Homo sapiens: one gene and its partners. The protein of the gene in region 2 purifies or fractionates together with the protein of the main gene of each other region. This does not show direct contact. Each region holds a gene or a part of one and is shown on either strand. Other genes may lie near its edges.

Region 1 (4,188 bases), on a different chromosome or scaffold from region 2:
AAAATAGGCCCACAGTAAATATGTTTTATGATCTCTTCTAATTCTTTGTATTTCTTATTCCTAATATCCAAACTCTTGTTTTTTTTAATTTTAACTACCTGTGACACCAGAGAAAGCATTTAGTCACGCTATAATAATTTAGACACATATAATCTTCAAACTCTTATTTTTAACATTTAAGAACAATAATAATGATTTTATGTCTCCCTCTTCCCTTAGTTTTTTGGAAAAATTATTATTAGTTTTATTTTATAAAATGATATGTGAGAATATACAGTAACACTGAAGGCCTGCCAGTTGTAGGTTATGTTTAAAGTACTCAAAGAGAAAAGTAAAGTTCTGTGTGTTTATGCTTTCAAATTGGTGTGTTTTTAGAAATATCTGTAATTGCATTATATTGTAATTCAAAATTTCCTCATTTAAATATAACTTGAATTTTGTTTTATGTAAAATTGTAATGCCTCATGATTTTTACAAATAATTCCTTTCCTCATTGCTCCTAGGTGAAGTTGTGGTATGATAAAGTGGGACACCAGCTGATTGTAAATGTTCTGCAAGCAACAGATCTACCTGCTAGAGTAGATGGACGTCCTCGAAATCCCTATGTAAAAATGTATTTTCTTCCAGATAGAAGGTAGTGAATAATTTTAGAAAAAAAAAATCTTAAAATCTGTACTAATAGAAAAGGTAGAATTTTCTCTTTTGGGATGTTTTTAAAAAATATAATAGATAATTCTGAGGAGATAAAAGTACATTATCTCTGAAAAAAGAAGTCCCTCAAGTGTTGGAAATTGTGTTGGAAATATTTGAAAATAATCTGTCAATTAAAAAAATCTATTACCTTGTTTATAGGTATATTAGTCTTTGATAGCGACACATCATTTAGAATGTACCTTTGTATGTGTCCCTATAATTACAATACTGCTTATATTGTAACTGAAGTTAGAATATTATTAAACTCTATTATCTTTTTATAGACTTTCCATGAGTTATTAGTTAAAATAATATAAATATCAATGGCAGTTTTACATGTAACTACAGTAGATGGCAGCATGTACTTGCTTTTTCATTTACAAAACATACTTATTTTTCAGTGATAAAAGTAAAAGGAGGACCAAAACAGTAAAGAAAATACTAGAACCAAAATGGAATCAAACTTTTGTCTATTCACATGTACATCGTAGAGATTTTAGAGAACGAATGTTAGAAATAACTGTGTGGGACCAACCAAGAGTGCAAGAAGAAGAAAGTGAATTTCTTGGAGAGGTGATGTATATTTTAAAAACTCAAGTCAAATAGTTAATAAAGTTTTGTGATATTTATTATGATTACTATTACATTATGTTTTGATAAAGGTACTTGATTTAATTTGAGAATTACCCTCTCAGATCCTCATAGAATTGGAGACAGCGCTTTTAGATGATGAACCGCATTGGTATAAACTTCAGACACATGATGAGTCTTCACTACCTCTGCCTCAGCCATCACCTTTCATGCCAAGGCGACATATTCATGGAGAAAGCTCTAGCAAAAAGCTACAAAGTAGGTTAAGGTCCTTTTAGTTGCCACAAAGTAATTATGCTGTAATGATCTAATTAGTGATTAATAATTCAAGATGTTTTTTTTAAATGTTTTATTAGAGATCAAAATACTGGAAAATTGTTCATCTTTATGAAGCAACTTGGCAAAACTGTTTCTACATTTTCACAATGAAAATAATGTAGATAGCATAGCAGAGTAATTGCAGAGCTGCAAGCCAAAAACCTCTGAATTAAAATTCTTGCACAGGGCCAATTGAGCTGTTGGTTATTGACTGATGGAATAATTTCTGTCATCACTGGTGAGTTGCCACCTGTGAAGTCTTAATAACTTTATAGTTCAAAGATTTTTTCTCCCCCCACCGAGAGAGAGTCTCACTCTGTTGCCCAGGCTGGAGTGCATTGGCGTGATCTCGGCTCACTGCAACCTGCACCTCCCGGGTTTAAGCAATTCTCCTGCCTCAGCCACTGGAGTAGCTAGGATTACAGAAGTGCGCCACCATGCCTGGCTAATTTATTTTTGTATATTTAGTAGAGATGGGGTTTCACCATTTTGGCCAGCCTGATCTTGAACTCCTGACCTTGTGATCCATCCGGCTCGGCCTCCCAAAGTGCTGGGATTACAGGTGTGAGCCACCATGCCCAGCCAGTTCATAGATATTTTAATAGTTATTCATAAGAAATGTTGTTTAAAATATTAGAAGGTATGTTTATTGCTATTCATCTAGTGATTGGGAAAAGCTATTTTTTTCTGTACTTATTGAGTAATTTTTGTGTCATAACTACATTTCTAAGTTAACAGCTGAAAGAAGCCTCATTTTGGTAATCTGGAACTAAATTATTTTTCTCACATAATTAAATATTTCATGTTGATGCTTCCCTGATCAGTAATTTCCTCAAAGTTAATGTTTAATGAAGTATAATGACTAATTTGGGGAGCTAAACATAAATATTTTATAAAGGGCCCTGATGTTTTTTCATTAATATAGGCTGAATAGAGCTCCAGCCAAGAAATGTCTCTGAACCTTTCCACTCAGCCCTATTCTCTCTGAACTGCAGAGGAAAGCACTTAATTGTGTAGAAAACAATGTACTGTATATACTGTGCTGAAGGCTTTTAGTATAATATTTTAATTAAAGAATTAATCTGAAAATCTTATTCTGTGAAGTCCCCTTGTTTCTATATGTCTTTGGTGTAATGAGGAAAAAAATACTGATAAAATGTTATCCTTAGAGAACAAACATTTCTTTTAAAATTAGCTCAGTGTTTACTGTATTAGTCTTCATAAGTTTTCAGTAATAATGCAATTCACTTTTTAAAAAAAGTTTGACAGTGCTCTTTACGTTTCATAAACCAACCAGACACAGAAGTATCTCTTTGCCTTACTGTTGTGCAGGATCTCAGCGAATCAGTGATAGTGACATCTCAGATTATGAGGTTGATGATGGTATTGGCGTAGTTCCTCCAGGTGCGTGGGTGAGGAGCATGACCCTGCTTCACTGTGCTGCTTTGCTTGTTTTCTCTGTCAGCTTCCGGACCTCTTTAGGATACTAAACTGAAGATTTATAGCACAGAGAAATCAGTATTATATTATTCCATGGTGACTTACATTTCAAATTATTAAGAAAGTTTTAAATGGACTAGTCTCTACTAATTAGCATTCCCATAGTGAGGTTCTTCCGTAGAAACATGTCTAACTAGTGAAACAAATCATTATTTCACAATGCTCTGAGCGTAAGTGAAAATACGAATTTTATTTTGAAAAGATGGGGTTATTAAATAAAAATTCCATTTTTCTGTGTTTTATATTTGCATTTCTATGATTTTCCTTCCACCATTTCTGAAAATAATGTAGCCCTCCATGGAATATACTGAGAAAGGTGCATGGCGGGGTTTAAAATTGCATGTGGCATGGCTGTAACTTTTAAAGCTTTTGTGATGTGTTCCCACTGATTATACCTAGAATGTGTGTATATGTTTTAATACAATAATATGTTTAAGAAAGATTAAGTATTAATTTGAAGTGAACATCTCTTTGTCATTGTGTAAGTTAGTAAAACTTTTGTGATGTTGTAGGGTTTAAATGTTTCTCATCTGACTTCTGTCAGAAAAGTGTAAAATCAAGTGGTAAAGACTTACTTTCTTGGCACTAATTCTATACTTTTTAAAAATTTACTAATGAGAGGAGAAGTAAATATGCAAATAAGAAGAAATGAAAGAGACAGTCTTAAAATGTATAAATATGAATTTTAAAGGCAGTTTTTAAAGACAGTATATATATATATGCCCTTGATATATATGCCCTTTATTTACATAATTTCTCAGATGGCAGTGTACTTAATTTGAGGGCAATGGTTTTGCTCAAATTGGTAGATTCTACGATACTAACTTCACAGTTTGGAGAGATGCATACAACTATTAAAACTGGGAGAAAATTATGGAGAGTTCTCTAAAATCAGGTTTCATTTGTTCCCTATAATTCAGAGAATATATGGTATTTATTTATTTATTTATTTATTTGAGACGGAGTCTCACTCTGCTGCTAGGCTGGAGTACAGTGGCACAATCTCAGCTCACTGCACCCTCCACCTCCCAGGTTCGAGTGATTCTCCTGCCTCAGCCTCCTGAGTAGCTGGGACTACAGGTGTGC
Region 2 (3,656 bases):
CGTTATTACTGAAGGGAAAAGGTTCAAGCCAATATTCACACTGCAGTCAATGAAAGAGTAAGGGGGCCAAAGCAGTGAGCTTCTGAAGAAGGTTGAAGATGACATGGGAGATTAGCAGGAACAGCCTCCTTCACTGACTGGTTGCTCCTGAGGCTTTTCCAGTTTTATGTCAATCACTGAAACAAAAGTTAAGAAGCCATAAATGGGAAAGTACAATTTCAATTCTTCCAAACACTAGCATTTCTGGGATGGCCCTTATATTCCTATCTGTCTTCAGAGCCTACACACTCACTATTTTCTACATAGCCGCCTCACCATATAAGGTGCTCAAATGGAATAAACTTGTTTATATCTACTATATGCAACAAGGGTCAGAATGAGGTACAAGCTCTATTTATGGGTATCTATCCTAAGGAACTTATTCTACAGTGGCAAGAAGTGATATGAAGATGATGTTCCTCATAGAATCATCTATAATATAAATCTGAAAATAGCCTACAAGATAGTTCCAACAGCAGAGGAAACATTTAGTAAATAATGGGACTTCAGGCCGGGTGCCGTGGCTCATGCCTGTAATCCCAACACTTTGGGAGGTTGAGGCAGGCCGAACACCTGAGGTCAGGAGTTCAAGACCAGCCTGGCCAACATGGCGAAACCCCATCTCTACTAAAAATATAAAAATTAGCTGGGCATGGTGGCTCATGCCTGTATTCCCAGCTACTTGGGAGGCTGAGGCAGGAGAATCACTTGAATTCAGGAGGCAGAGGTTGTGGTGAGCTGAGATTGCGCTGCTGCACTCCAGCCTGGGCGACAGAATGAGACTCCATCTCAAAAAAAAACGGCGGTGGGCGCGGGGACATACTTCAACTCAATAGAACATTTTTTGTTGTTGTTGTTGTTTTGTTTTTGAAACATATTATGTTTTATGTTGTTGTTGTGTTTTTTTTTTTGGGGGGGGAATGGAGTTTCGATCCTGTTGCCCAGGCTGGAGTGCAATGGCGTGATCTCGGCTCACTGCAACCTCTGCCTCCTGGGTTCAAGCAATTCTCCTGCCTCAACCTCCTTAGTAGCTGGGATTACAGGCGTGCACTATCACGCCCAGGTAATTTTTTTATTTTTAGTAGAGACAAGGTTTCTCCATGTTGGTCAGGCTGGTCTTGAACTCCCGACCTCAGGTGATCCACCTGCCTTGGCCTCCCAAAGTGCTGGGATTACAGGCATAAGCCACCGCGCCCGGCCTGTTTTATGTTTTTTATGAAAACATATAACATTTACAAGTGGGAAGAGCTGAATACAAAGTGCTACAAACTATATGGCTTAATAAAAATGCCTGCATATGGAAATACACTAGAAGGTGAATATGAAACACTGAAAACATCAAATTAAAAATCCTTAGAATTAACTAATATTAGATGTCCCAATCCTTGGAAATGAACTAATATTATGTCCTGTTTCTGAAAGCAGAGGCTACAATAAAGCTCCACTCTATTTCTTGCCTGTGTCAAGTAGAAAGCTCAAGTGTTAGAAAAAGAAATGAAAATTTGATATTCCATGAGGAAAAAGCCTAGAGTCAATGGGACTCAAAATGAAGAGGCAAGGACACAGGGATTCTAAGAGTTTCCTGCTCATTTAAAAGCAAGCAAACAAACACAAAACCTCTCACTGATTAACAACGAGAAGCAGGCTGCAAAGGGTGCACTTGGATAACCAGACCTCATTTGCTATAGAAAACAAATGAATTTCTATGCCTTTAAGTCATCAGTTCCTGGTTGTAAAAGGCAATGGCACAATATTCTTTAGCCAAGCAAGCAGGGCTCTAAAGACTAGTGTTAATAATGAAAAATTTCCAATGAAATAAAAAGGATACTATCTTCTCTGCTTCTGTCCTGTGTGCTTTCCATTCCCGGCAAAGCTGCTGCTACACGTCGAAAGAGCTGTGGGAAAGAGAGAAAAGTGATAACTGAGAGGGAACATTTAGCAAAGGGTACTGAGGTTTATGATCACTGTACAGTGAGCTGTCTAATGCTGGGCGCAGTGGCTCACACCTGTAATCCCAGCACTTTGGGACCCACCCGAGGTGGGCAGATCACTTGAGGTCAGGAGTTTGAGACCAGCTTGGGCAACATGGTGAAACTCTGTCTCTACAAAAAAAAACACAAAAATTAGCCAGGCGTGGTGGCACACGCCTATAGTCCTAGGTACTGGAGAGGCTGAACCTGGAGGACTGCTTCAGCTCAGGAAGTGGAGGCTGCAGGGAGCTGAGATCACGCCACTGCACTCCAGCCCGGGCAACAGGGCGAGACTCTGTCTTTAAATAAATAAATAAATAAATAATAAAATAAAATGTCTATTCATTCTATAAACGAGTATTATATAAAAAGCAATATACCAAATACAAAGAGGTATAAAGACATGATTCCTGTTTTTTTAACTGGTGGGATAAGACAAAAGTAAACAGCTATGAAATAAGCAGCAAAAATGTCATTTGAATAATAAAGTATTACAGAAACGCAGAAAAAGGACAGATCATTCATTTAACAAAACTGTATAGTAGCATTCCTATCTTTCATATAAAGAGTGAGGTTCAGGGCTGGACGCGGTGGCTCACGCCTGTAATCCCAGCACTTTGGGAGGCCAAGGGGTGTGGATCACGAGGTCAGGAGTTCAAGACCAGCCTGGACATGGTGAAACCCTGTCTCTACAGAAAATACAAAAATGAGCTGGGTGTGGTGGCACATGCCTGTAATCCCAGCTACTTGGGAGACTGAGGCAGGAGAATCACTTGAACCTGGGAGGCGGAGGTTGCAGTGAGCCAAGATCACGCCACTGCATTCCAGCCTGGGCGACACAGCAAGACTTCTTCTTGGCGGGGGTGTGGGGGGGAGAGTTAGGTTCTGAAGTCAGTGTATAATATATTGTGAAACTCAGTCCAGTCAAAATTATCCTTCATCGTTCATTAGAAAAGCACTATGTTAGAGATTAATACACCACCCCTCAAGTCCAACACAGCTGGCTTTTCTTCCATCATTGGAATGAGTGTCAGTGGGAGTGGCTGGCTTGTGTTTGAGGTATGAAGCTATGAAAAGTTATCTTCAACAGGAGAAACGCACTCAAGCCTGGTGAGATGTTTACTTTTGAGAGGCATATGAGAACAGATACTGGAACAACAGTTTATACTTCTTATATTGTCCCAATCTTAGGCATACACCCACTGGGTACAACAGCCAGTGAAACTGCCTGATTATTTCAATTATTTATCTTTTAATTAAGCACACAGTGTAAACCCATAAATTAAATGCATATGTGCTGTAACTCCTTTGTACCAAGTACTTGCTTACTTGAGGCAGTGTATCAGGCAGCCTCATTCTGTGTCTTTGAGACACAGAAATGAACAAGAAAAAACAGTTTTTTAATTCAAGGAGCTCAAAATCTGGTAAAGGAGATACTCAAACAATTCTTTATATTACAATGTGATGCTACAAACAAAGTAAGTTTAAAATGCTCTGAGAATACAGATGTAACAAGGTCCAACTCAGGAGGCTGAAAAAAATCTTTTAGGAGGTAACATCTGAGTTGAGATTTAAAGGCAGTCTTAAAACCTCACTTGGCTGAAATACATGCATAAAATGCTCAGGGTTTAAGTGCTCTATAAGTAT
Region 3 (4,188 bases), on a different chromosome or scaffold from region 2:
CCCAGCCATCAGCTAGCTTTATTACTATTATCTAAAGACATAAACTAAAGCGAAGCAAAGGCAATCTATGTACTATTTATCTTTCTCAGTATTCCTTAATTATTAATAATTGTTTAAGTTAACCCTGGCTTTGCTAAGAATTGAGAATCTTTCATACCACTTACCACATTAGCTTCTCTGGGCTTTTGCTGTCTTGCTTGTAAAGAGAGAGAATTTAAGACTAAGATGATCTATAAAATTTTTTTTTTTTACCTCTAAAAAGCTTTTAACTTGATAGAATGTATCCACAGTCAGAAATCCTGAAATCCTTGAAGTGGTTTGCTTCTTGGTCTATGATGACTTCTCTATTGAAAGATCTCTGCTGTCTTTCAAGGGAAAGATCTCTTTTTGTTATCAGTTAGTAGCTATTGTATAAAGTTTTAAAGAGAGATATGGTGATTAAGAGCAAGTGTTTAAAGAGAGGCATGGTGATTTAGAGAGAGGTATTGTGATTAAGAGCAAGGATTCTGAAACCATACTGTATGGATTTAAATCACAGCTTTTCCACTTCCTAGCTGTGCAACCTTAGGTAAATTACTTAATCTTTCTGTGCTTTAGCTTCATCTGTAAAATGGGGATAGTAATACTGTCTTGTTGTGAGGATTAAATGAGTAAATATGAACTGCCTAGAATAGTAGCACTATTGGTTTATAACATGGGCTAAGTCTTTTCTAGCCTTTTATTTATTTATATAAATAATTTATATTTATACAAATAAATATTTTATTTATATAATTATAAAATAATTATTTTAACAATAATTATTAATATCACTAATTGTGATTTTTTTCCATCAATAGTGTACCGAGTAATTTTATTACATTGTTTTTTAAATCATTTGAGCTACTATTTTTGTTTTTTAACTTGAAACTAATTACCAATTTTATTCAGTTGTGAACACCAGCTTTTCCTTGATAATACACTTGACACATTTGAAACCAGAGTAAAGAGATGTAGAAATGTGTTATTTCTTCCTGGAAATAAAATGTATAGAGACGTTTCTTCATAATTTGAAAACAGTGACAGGTAGTAAGTCCTGACAGTGAAAAAAACCTCATTGTTTTTCCTTCTTTAGATCAAATTCTGTAGAGAAAGAGCAGCGTTTTCTGTATGAGTGTAAAAGGTTTCTCTATTCATGGTATGTAGTACTTATATTATCTTAGCATTCAAAATATAAAATCCAGATTATACAAATATAATTCTAGGATTTAAACTGTTGGCTTTGTTTTACCTCTAATGTGGACTCTTGGGATGTTACCTGACTTTATCCCCCCTCATAATCACTACTCATTTTTTTAGCTCAGTTCAAGTAGGATTCTACCAAATTGTCAACCCTTAATGAAAATTGTTGTCAGCCTATGCTTAGCTTTTTGTGTTTCCATACTTCCCAGTCAATGCTTTCTGACGGCTCAGCTTTTATGGAACGTTTCTGTTTTTTCCTTCCTAGGGTATTACTTATGACCATGTCGAATTAAATGTATACTTGAATGGAAAAAACATGCATTGTCCAGCATCAGGTATACGAGGGACAGTGTATCCAGTTGTTTATGGTAAGCAAAAATATTTCTAATGTATTATTACATACATATTAACTTGTTTGGTGTGTGTATCAGTCTGTTTTCATGCTGCTATAAAGACATACCCAAGACTTGGTAATTTATAAAGGAAAGAGGTTTAATTGACTCACAGTTCCACAGAGCTGGGGAGGCCTCAGGAAACTTACAATCATGGCGGAAGGGGAAGCAAACACATCCTTCTTCACATGGCAATAGGAAGGAGAAGATTGAGCGAAGTTGGGGAAAGCCCCTTATGAAACCATCAGATCTTGTGAAAACTCACTCACTTTTACAAGAACAGCATGAGTGTAACCACCCCCATGATTCAATTACCTCCCACTGGGTCCCTCCACAACACATGGGGATAATGGGAACTATAATTCAAGACGAGATTTGGGTGGGGACACAGCCAAACCATATCAGCGTGTATGTTACTTTTATAGCTATCATCTAGAAATCTGGACACATTGTTAATAAGGACCTTTTTATTTTATTTATTTATTTATTGTTTGAAACGGAGTGTCACTCTGTCACCCAGGCTGGAGTGCAGTGACACGATCTCAGCTCACTGCAGCCTCCGCCTCCTGGGTTCAAGCGATTCTCCTGCCTCAGCCTCCCGAGTAACTGGGATTACAGGTGCCTGCCACCACGCCTGGCTACTTTTTGTATTTTTAGTAGAGATGGGGTTTCACCATGTTGGCCAGGCTGGTCTTAAACTCCTGACCTCAGATGATCCACCCACCTCAACCTCCCAAAGTGCTGGGATTACAGGTATAAGTCACCGTGCCCAGCCATAAGGACCTTTTTATATGGATTGTAGTCGGTAGGATATTACAATCCCACTTTGCAGGATTAAGGATAGTTTCTGTTCCCCATGTATTAAAATAAACTTGCTAAATACAATGATTACACTTAAATATGCAATAACCGTACTCCCTTTTTCAACATGTAGTTTTATGTTTTAGAAAGTTTCAAAAAGCTTTACTGAATTTAGAAAACTTTTTCTGCAAGTCATTGGGAATGATTGCATGGCCAGGAAACATAATTATAAATAATATTTTGGAATTAGAGATGGGAATTTTATGTAGACTGTACATTAATAACCCTTACAAAATTCCTTAAATGTTAATGCTCTTCTGAGGGAAATAGTGACTTAGAATTTTAATTTTAACTTTAATTTTTTGTTTTTTTGTTTTGTTTTGTTTTGTTTTGTTTTGTTTTGCGACAGAGTCTTGCTGTGTCCCCCAGGCTGGAGTGCAGTGGCCCGATCACAGCTCACTGCAGCCTCAAACTCCTGGGTTCAAGCAATCCTCCCACCTCAGCCACCCCAGTAGCTGGGACTACAAGTGTGCACCACTATTGGGATTACAGGCATGAACCACTGCATCCGGCCTACCTTAATTTTTATTATAGAAAATTCCAAACATGTACAGAAGTAAAAAGAATAGTATAATAAACCCTCATATACCCATCAGCCAGCTTCAAACAATTATCAACTTGTAACCAATCGGGTTTCATCTACACCCCCCCACCCCCAATGCTGCTATTGTTCTTCACTTACCCTCCTTGGGTTATTTTGAGGCAAATGCCAGGTAATATATAATTTTATTCATAAATGTTTTATTTGTATCTCGAAAAAAAGGTCTCTTTCTTTTTTTTTTTTTAGAAAAACATAACCACAATGTCTTTATCAATCCATTCTGCTTTATTTTTTATACTATCAACTTTTTTTTTTTTTTTTTTTTGAGACAGAGTCTCACTCTGTCACCCAGACTGGAGTGCAGTGTTGTGATCTTGGCTCACTGCTGCCTCCGCCTCCTGGGTTCAAGATATTCTCGTGCCTCAGCCTCCAGAGTAGCTGGGATTACAGGTGTGTATCACCACACCCAGCTAACTTTTGGGGTTTTTTTGTATTGTTTTGTTTTTTTTGAGACAGAGTCTCATTCCATCGCCAGACTGGAGTGCAGTGGCACGATCTTGGCTCACTGAAACCTCCGCCTCCCAGGTTCAAGCGATTCTCCTGCCTCAGCCTCCCGAGTAGATGGGACTACAAGCACGCACCACCACACCCAGCTAATTTTTGTATTTTTAGTAGAGATGGGGTTTCACCATGTTGGCCAGGATGGTCTTGATCTCTTGACCTTCTGTTCTGCCCGCCTCGGCCTTCCAAAGTGCTGGGATTATAGGTGTGAGCACCTGGCCAACTTTTATATTTTTACTAGAGATGGGGTTTCACCATGTTGGCCAGGCTGATCTCGAACTCCTGAGCTCAAGTGATCTGCCCACCTCGGCCTCCCAAAGTGCTGAGATTATAGGCATGAGCCACCGTGTCCAGCCTATTTTGTATTATCAACTTTAAGTAAACAGGTATATGATTTTTCTGCCTTTGGTTTTGTAAGTCTAAAAATATTTTCTCATTTAAGTTCTTAAATTTGGGTTATAATAAGAACTAATTAGGACTGGCGTGGTGGCTCACACCTATAATCCCAACACTTTGGGAGGCCGAAGCCGGTGGATCACTTGATGTCAGGAGTTTGAGACCAGCCTGGCCAACATGGTGAAACCCCATCTCTACTAAAAATACAAAAAATTA
Region 4 (4,188 bases), on a different chromosome or scaffold from region 2:
CTTGCTCCATTTTTACTCCTTCTTTTTGGGAGTGACTTCCTAATTATGGAGGTAAGAGTGGCATAATATGGATAATTATTGAAACTAGATATGGGGTAAATAGTGGTTCATTATAATATTCTCTCCGCTTTGTAAGTGTTTGAAAAATAATTTAGGTATCAGCCATGATAGCAAAAGGTAGAGTACTATCACTGTAACATTGGGAGAACACAAGCATACATCACAATAAATGAAAAATATTGGACATTCTAACCATGTGTTTCTACTTCTGATATATTATCTGGCTCTAAACTAAAGATTTTTCTGGTAATTTTCTGATTTTAAAACTTTTATCTAGTTTAAGAATTTTTTTTAACACTTCTCACTCAGTAAACAGAAAAACCTATAAATCTGATGGGAGAAAGATTTGGAATTCATTTTATTGTATAGCTCCATTTTCCCTAATGTAGATAATAGCCAGACATCAGTATTATAAAGTATTTATAGATATTTTAAAGAGGAAGAAAAAGATGTGTGTTTTTTTTTTCAGATGCAAATTGTATTCATATGGTAGACAATGGGATTGTAGAAAAACTTATGGATTTACTGGACAGACATGTAGAAGATGGAAATGTAACAGTACAGCATGCAGCACTAAGTGCCCTCAGAAACCTGGCCATTCCAGGTAAGACTTAAGAATAGAAGGCAGCTGTGTACAAAATAAAATCCATCATTTGGGGAAGCTATTAACTGTATGTGATTTGTGAACCTGCTCTGATGAAGAAAATTTAAAAAAAAATAGTCTTCACATTGTTCACATTTTTTCATGCTAATAAATGGAGATCATATGTTAAATAAGTTTTGTGAGACTGTACAAGAATAATCTTTGCCTTCATTCAGATATCCTGTTACCTTTTGCGAACTGTTAGATTTTCATCATGTTTTATAGTTAAGCTTTTTTAAGTTTGAGATGGGGTCTCACTCTGTCAGCCAGGCTAGAGTGCAGTGACGCAGTCCTGGCTCACCACAGCCTCTACCTTCTGAGCTCAAGTTATCCTCCCACCTCAGCCTCCTGAGGAACAGGGACTACAGGCATGTGCCACCATGCCCAGCTGATTTTTTTTTTTTGTAGAAACAGGATCTCACTATGTTGCCTAGGCTGGTCTTGAACTCCTGGGCTCAAGCAGTCCACCCACCTTTGCCTCCTAAAGTGCTGGGATTACAGGTGAGAGCTACTGCACCAGGCCTTAGGCATCTTTAGTTGAGGTAGAATAATGACATCAATTAACAGAGTCCACTCAAGAATGACTTTCAGTTGTTGTTTTTCTATAAGCAGATGTACAATTTTTTTAAAATAGCCTTAATGTGCCTTTGGAAGTCATGAAATCACTGTATTATGGAAAATACAACAAAAGATAGTTAAAACTATTCTTTTATCCTACTTTCTAAAAATAAATTTCTGATTAGATGAAATAGTACAATTACATGATGATCCAATCCATTTGAATTCATTTGGTTTACATAGGATAGTAACATTTATTAATGTCTATAACATTTATATTAACACAGTTGGATCAAAAACGGAATTGTGCTTTTTGTTGTAAGAGGGTAACATTTTCAGATTTCCTTTACAAACTATGTAAGTAAGTGTTTTGGATTGGATCTAAAAAGCCATGATACTGTCATAAAAATTATTATATTGTCTGTTATCCGCTTATACACAAATAGGATACGGACACACACATAAACAACTGAATTCCATTCTTAAAATTGACAAAAAAGTGACAAGATTGTTTCTAAATGGAAAAATAAAACATGGATCTTAAAGATACTTAATAAACCTGTATTGAATTGAATGTTTATCAACAGGAATGCTAATACCATTTTAACCATAGTCTCTCTTTTTCTCCAGTTATAAATAAAGCAAAGATGTTATCAGCTGGGGTCACAGAGGCAGTTTTGAAATTTCTTAAATCTGAAATGCCTCCTGTTCAGTTCAAACTTCTGGGAACATTAAGAATGTTAATAGATGCACAAGGTAAAAGAAATGTTTTCCCCAACTTGCATTTTTCATATGATAGTCTTAATGTGCCTCTAGTTGAAAAAGGACTTGTTTTTAGCTTTTAGGATTATGTAATCATAAAAAATAGCAAATAAAAGATTTAAAAGTTGGTTTTGGAACTCCATTTGTTAATTTTTATGCTTGTTATAATTATTTATTTATACATATTATTTATTTATTTATTTATTTATTTATTTGTTTATTTATTTATTTTTGAGACAGAGTCTTGTTCTGTCACCCAGGCTGGAGTGCAGTGGTGCGACCTCAGCTCACCGCAACTTCCGCCTCCTGGGTTCAAGCAATTTTCCTGCCTCAGCCTCCTGAGTAGCTAGGATTACAGGCATGCTCCACAACTCCTGGCTAATTGTTTTGGAATTTCACTAGACATGGGGCTTGTTGCTCAGGCTGCTCTTGAACTCCTGGCCTCAAGCGATCCACCCACTTCAGCCTCCCAAAGTGCTGGGATTACAGGTGTGAGCCACCATGTCCAGCCTATAATTGACTTTAAATAGAAATTATACCATATCTCTCCTTATTAGTACTTATAGTCCTGGTTTTAGGTTGCTTTATTCATCAGTTTCGGCAGGGGGTGTTGTGTTTTGGCATTCTATACCCATTTTTACCTTGGCTTTGAAATCAAATTTCATTATTGTGACAGTCAAAAATTTTTTAAATTTGTCTTCCAGACAGGGAGAGCATTTTTCTGTTTGCAGAAACAGCAGTCAGAACCACTCCTAGGAATGAATTATGTTTATTTACTTATTTCTAAATTTTAAACCCTTTTCTATATTGATTGCATAGAGTCTTTCTAAGAACCCTGCATTATAGTCCGCCAGAGCACTAACAGACTAGCAGGCTTAACCAAAAGAGTATGAAGTCATTTGTTGTTGTATTTTCTATAAAATTTCACAGTGTTACAGAAGAAGGCAAATAGCCCATCACATAAGGAATATTTGCAGTTCTAGCTTTAATGAAATTGTCGTGCTGTGTTTTTTTAGACGTCCTTCACACTCTCAAATCTGTACGAATTATTTCAACTGATTGTCTGTTAGTGATTCATTCCTTGGTTTGCCTTCTTTCCTATAGCAGAAGCTGCTGAACAATTGGGAAAGAATGTTAAGTTAGTGGAGCGTTTGGTGGAATGGTGTGAAGCCAAAGATCATGCTGGTGTGATGGGGGAGTCAAACAGACTGCTGTCTGCCCTTATACGACACAGTAAATCAAAAGTAAGTTCCAGAGGAAACTGTTCACTAGAAAACTTCAGAGTGTCTTTTTCAGAAACCCAGCATTGTAGGTCCTAACAACTGGGATAATATTTACCTGAAAGTATTGTGAAGATTCAGTGAGATCATGTATATAATGTGCTTAGCTGATACATGGGATATAGGAAACACTCGGTAAATGGGGGTTGCTGTTGTTGCTGCTGCTATTGTTGTTATTACTTTTACCACCACCGTTATCAGCATCAGTGTCAAACATTCTTTGTGCCAGGCATTGACCATGCAGCCTACTGATATTTAGAAATTAAATGGTACCTAGATAGTATATGATGTCCAGAGCTCACAGAGTTAGAAAAAAATCCATTCTTGTGGCTGGCTGTGCCGCTGTCTGGCACATGGTAGATAACCAATAAATGAACAAATGAGCTATTTTAAAGATCACAATAGTGAGTACCCAGGCCAGCAGTTCAGCAGCTGATTTAGTATCTAGATTATATGATTTTTAAATTTTTTAAATACTGTTTTCTTGTTGGGCGTGGTGGCTGACACCTGTAATCCCAGCACTTTGGGAGACTGAGGTGGGCAGATCATGAGGTCAGGAGATCAAGACCATCCTGGATAACATAGTGAAACCCCGGGTCTACTAAAAATACAAAAAAAAATTAGCTGGGCGTGGTGGCGGGCACCTGTAGTCCCAGCTACTCGGGAGGCTGAGGCAGGAGAATGGCGTGAACCCGGGAGGCGGAGCTTGCAGAGAGCCGAGATTGCACCACTGCACTCCAGCCTGGGTGACAGAGCAAGACTCCGTCTCAAAATAAAATAAAATACTGTTTTCTTTTTCTTTTTTGAGACTGAGTCTTGCTCTCTCGCTCAGGCTGGAGTACAGTGGCACAATCTCAGCTCATTGCAACCTCCACCTCCTGGGTT
Region 5 (3,913 bases), about 60 Mb from region 2:
ACTTTAAATTCTGGAAGCCCAGAAAAAACGTGCAGTCAGGGTAAGCCTTATGTTTGGTGCCAGACACAGTAGAGCATTTACAGATGAAAACACAGAACAAGCTACTTCTTATTCCTTTCAAAGCGGTGTGTTTTCTTATCTTTAAAACAAATAACGTTAATTGGGCTTTTAGGATCATGGGTAGTAAAACAATGCATATTTATTCTAGGAGATTTGGAAAATAGAGTGAAATATGAAACTCACCCATAGCAGTGAGGCATTCCTTCCTCCAGCTATTCTGTTCCTCTTACACACACGTGTTTTGTTTTGTTTATGGAATTGTGATCTGTGCGTGCATTGTTTTATGACCTGTTTCCCTGCATTCTTAAGTCAGATGTAGTAGATGTAGTAGACAGCTTCCATGAACTTTTCTTTCCAACCTTTGCTTTCAGTGGCTTTATAGCATTGTGGCTGTGGAAATAACTGATTTATTACTATCCTGTTCTTTGAAATGTTGATTTTCAATTTTTCCATACAAATACTATCACAGTAAACATCCTTGTACATATAGCCTTGTATGTATGTAATCCTTGGGATTAATTCCCAGCAGTCAAAGGCCATGGATATTTAAAAACTTTGGATAGTGTCAAACTGTCCTCTATCACTTATGCCAAGTTAGACTCTTTTATTTTTTTGAATCCTAATGAGAATGGACATTTTTTCTCATGTTTATCATTTATTTGTATTTCTTCCTGAATTGCCTCTTTATAAGAAAATTGTAAACACTAGTGATTTTGACTTTACGTCTTGCAGATATGTTTTCTCATGTGGTTGTTTTGCTCTTCGTTATTGTTTGGGGGTATTTCTGGATAGCAGCACCTTTTCTGTTCTAGTGTCTTCATACAGTTTGGAGCAAGAGTCGAATGGCGAGATTGAGCACGTGACCAAGCGGGCCATCAGCACCCCCGAGAGTGAGTAACTGATCGGAACACGTGGGCTTCTCCTCAGTCTCTCCTGCATTCGTGATGTGTTTGCTAGAGTCGCAGTAAAACTCCTTCCGGTGCAGGATAGTTCTGATGGTCAGAACCATGAGTGCATTGCTGAGGTGGAGTATTTCACAGTGACCACGGTCGCTTGATCCATGAGCACTGACCGAGTATGTTGTTCCAGTGTCGTTACATTCAGTCAGTCAAACACCACAGTGGCCCGCGGAGCAGACAATGCCGTTGAGGCACAGGTAGGTTGGGTGACTGACCCAGTGGTGCCTTCTGGAGGCGGCCCTCCGTGTCTCTGGGCTGTCCGGGTGCACTGGGCGCTGCTGGGTGGGCCTGCTCCCAGGGCGGGCAGACGTCAGCACCAGCAGGTACCATGCACGCTCTGCAACTGCCAAGACCAGAGACCCGGGGACCCCTGCTCGGAGCCTGTGTCTCATTCCCCTCCATGTTTTTTCCTACTGTTTGTGCTTTTCCTTTGATTTCAAAACAGAGGTGAGTTAGGAGAGTTGAGTATTCTTTTCCTATTATCTTGTGTGATAGCTTCATATTGTGTCAAACCTCATAAAAACCATTATTTTGAGAAAACTCTTACAGGAAGAAGAAATGCTTCCTGTCCTAAATCTGTGGAGTAGTGGCTAGGCCCTGCCGCCGTGTCCCTGTGTGCCCCTCGCTCTGCGCCCGGCTGTGCACAGTGCCCTCAGCAAGCTGCATCCAGCCCCGCTCGTCCCTGGCCATTCCACTCCTCACTGTTTCCACAGACCACAGTGCCTGGAACCTGGGAGGTGTCAGAGATCTCCTCCCGGAGACTTCTGGGAGGGCAGAGCTGGGCGCTGAGCCCAGGCCTTCTGGTCCCAACTCTTGTGCCCCTTCTCCAGCCTGTCTCCTAGTCCTGACTGCAGGGGAAGATGAGAGCGTGCTAAGGTGCTCTTCCTGGTAACAGAGCAGCAAGGTGTCCTGCCGTTCGTTTAGTCACTGCTTCAGTCAGCTCATGTGTGTGGAGCACCTGCTGTATTCTAGCTACTTGCTTGTTTGGTTCTGTCACACTGATGCTGTGATCTCTTAGAATAGTTAACAGGTTAGAGGTAATTTTCATCCAGGTCCCCCTTTGAAGGGAGTTTATCCCACCCCCACCCTCAGACGACAACCGAATCATGACGGCATTTGTCATTAAAGGCAGTGGGTAATTTGGGATCCTGCGTCGTGGACAGGTGCGATGTTCTGTGTGTTAGAGCTTGCTGTGTGTTCGATGTTCCTGGCTCAGGAGTGCCAAGAGCTTCTATTTTGGCAGTGAGGTGCCATATGCTGAAGAAACGGGGAGAACGCATCTCATTTTCGTTGTGCTCATCCTGAGTCCCTGATGTCAGTGTTGGGTTGTTTCCTAGCAGCTCGTGTTTCTCCACAGGGCAGCCTGGCGTGGAGGGTTCATGCCGCCCTCATCTGCCTGTGTGGAGCCACGCTTTGTGCTGGAAATCAGGCGCCCGGTGTCATTGAGTTGGTAGAGTACTTGTTCTTGCTCCAGGCTCTTGGACATAATATTCCTGCTGATGCAGTCTCTGTCCGTCTCTCTTTATACTGAACCAGGAAGAAATGCCTGGAGGTCTCCCCTTCCTGGGAGAACTGTTAGATAGTTTAAAAGCACTCAGTTCTGTTTTCTCTGTGGTTTATACGTCCAGATTCTTTTTGGCAACTTTTAGTTTAGGTGGGGGAGACTGTCAGGAAGTGTCTCAGCTCTTCAAAGCTGGCAGGAAAGATGCCACCCAGTTCAGCACCAATTCACAGTGGCTTTGCTAAATGGAAATGAAAATTAGTCAATTTTCAGAGCGAGGATTTTAACTGAAAATCTGTGGGGGTTTTAGCAAGTCCCTGTTACTGTTACCATTCGGGTGGCACAGACGCTGCTGCCTTCGATTCTACGCACAGTGCATGGGGGACGTCAGAGCCCCCGCACCCGGGCTTCTGTAAAGATGGGAGACTAATTTCCTGGAGTGCATATGGGCTTCCAAACAGGAAGAGCAGTGTGTGTGTCAGGAAGGGAATTTCATGTGACAGCACAAGGAGAGACTTCACCGAAACAGAATAAGCAGATCTAGCAGTGATGAGGAATTCTCTACCATCGTCTATTAGTGACACTCAAGTAGCCATCGGGTACACAGCTGCAGTGCGCTGATGAGCTTTGAACTGTAAATGGGAAGACACAGTCCATACTCAAGACACCAAGTGGAGAACGGGGAGCGCTCTGAAGCTGCCTCCTCGCATGTGCTTGCAGAAGGGCAGCAGGTTCAGTGGTACCAGCAAGCAGCTGCCCAGCCCGTGCTGTTCCCGGGAGTGTGCTGGTGGCAGCTTATGCACTGGGTACAGCACCACCCAGGAGGGGCGAGGCTGCACCACCCAGGAGGGGCGAGGCTGCACCACCCAGGAGGGGCGAGGCTGCACCACCCAGGAGGGGTGAGGCTGCACCACCCGGGCCTCCAAGACAGGGTGGCATGTGTAGGCAGATGGGGCGGTGGGGGGGGGGGTGCAGAGAAGCATAATGTGCAGACAGGGCCTGCTGAGGAAGAGGACGCAGGAGGGTGGACGTGTTTGTGCACGCGTGCACCTGAGCCTAACAGGTGAGTCTGTAAAGGCAGCTTGGGACCAGCTGAGACTGAGGGTGGACTTCAGGCTCTCCTAGGAACACAGCGATTGAGGTGTCTTGAAGCAGGGCAGTAAATTTACCAGCTTCTTGATGAAACATAACTCCAGTGATGCAGGGATGATACTGCTAATAAATGACAGTGGCTGCTAACATCTCTTGAGCACTGCCCTTGCAGCCAGCACGATGCTAAGCACTCAACGTGGATAACCTCATGTAGTCCTGGCAGCCCCCCAATGAGGTAGCTATGTTTTTATACCCACTTAAGAGATGAAGAAACCTGAGGGTCTCAGAGCAGCTCACACAG

The links.
Region 1: the proteins of RAB6A (region 2) and RIMS1 purify together in Homo sapiens (co-immunoprecipitation; one large-scale study listed by IntAct). This does not show direct contact.
Region 3: the proteins of RAB6A (region 2) and SPRYD7 fractionate together in Homo sapiens (co-fractionation; one large-scale study listed by BioGRID). This does not show direct contact.
Region 4: the proteins of RAB6A (region 2) and RAP1GDS1 purify together in Homo sapiens (co-immunoprecipitation; one large-scale study listed by IntAct). This does not show direct contact.
Region 5: the proteins of RAB6A (region 2) and NCAPD3 purify together in Homo sapiens (co-immunoprecipitation; one large-scale study listed by IntAct). This does not show direct contact.

The regions. Positions count from the first base shown.
Region 1 is NC_000006.12:72,249,827-72,254,014, forward strand, and holds part of RIMS1 (regulating synaptic membrane exocytosis protein 1), read left to right. Parts: intron 1-503; coding exon 504-634; intron 635-1,094; coding exon 1,095-1,266; intron 1,267-1,388; coding exon 1,389-1,542; intron 1,543-2,934; coding exon 2,935-3,006; intron 3,007-4,188. UniProt on the Homo sapiens protein: Rab effector involved in exocytosis. May act as scaffold protein that regulates neurotransmitter release at the active zone.
Region 2 is NC_000011.10:73,677,787-73,681,442, forward strand, and holds part of RAB6A (ras-related protein Rab-6A), read right to left. Parts: intron 1,935-3,656; coding exon 1,868-1,934; intron 177-1,867; coding exon 112-176; 3' UTR 1-111. UniProt on the Homo sapiens protein: The small GTPases Rab are key regulators of intracellular membrane trafficking, from the formation of transport vesicles to their fusion with membranes.
Region 3 is NC_000013.11:49,918,879-49,923,066, reverse strand, and holds part of SPRYD7 (SPRY domain-containing protein 7), read left to right. Parts: intron 1-1,486; coding exon 1,487-1,589; intron 1,590-4,188.
Region 4 is NC_000004.12:98,418,128-98,422,315, forward strand, and holds part of RAP1GDS1 (rap1 GTPase-GDP dissociation stimulator 1), read left to right. Parts: intron 1-529; coding exon 530-664; intron 665-1,891; coding exon 1,892-2,017; intron 2,018-3,127; coding exon 3,128-3,267; intron 3,268-4,188. UniProt on the Homo sapiens protein: Acts as a GEF (guanine nucleotide exchange factor) for the Rho family of small GTP-binding proteins (G proteins) that stimulates the dissociation of GDP to enable subsequent binding of GTP.
Region 5 is NC_000011.10:134,154,055-134,157,967, reverse strand, and holds part of NCAPD3 (condensin-2 complex subunit D3), read left to right. Parts: coding exon 1-40; intron 41-872; coding exon 873-950; intron 951-3,913.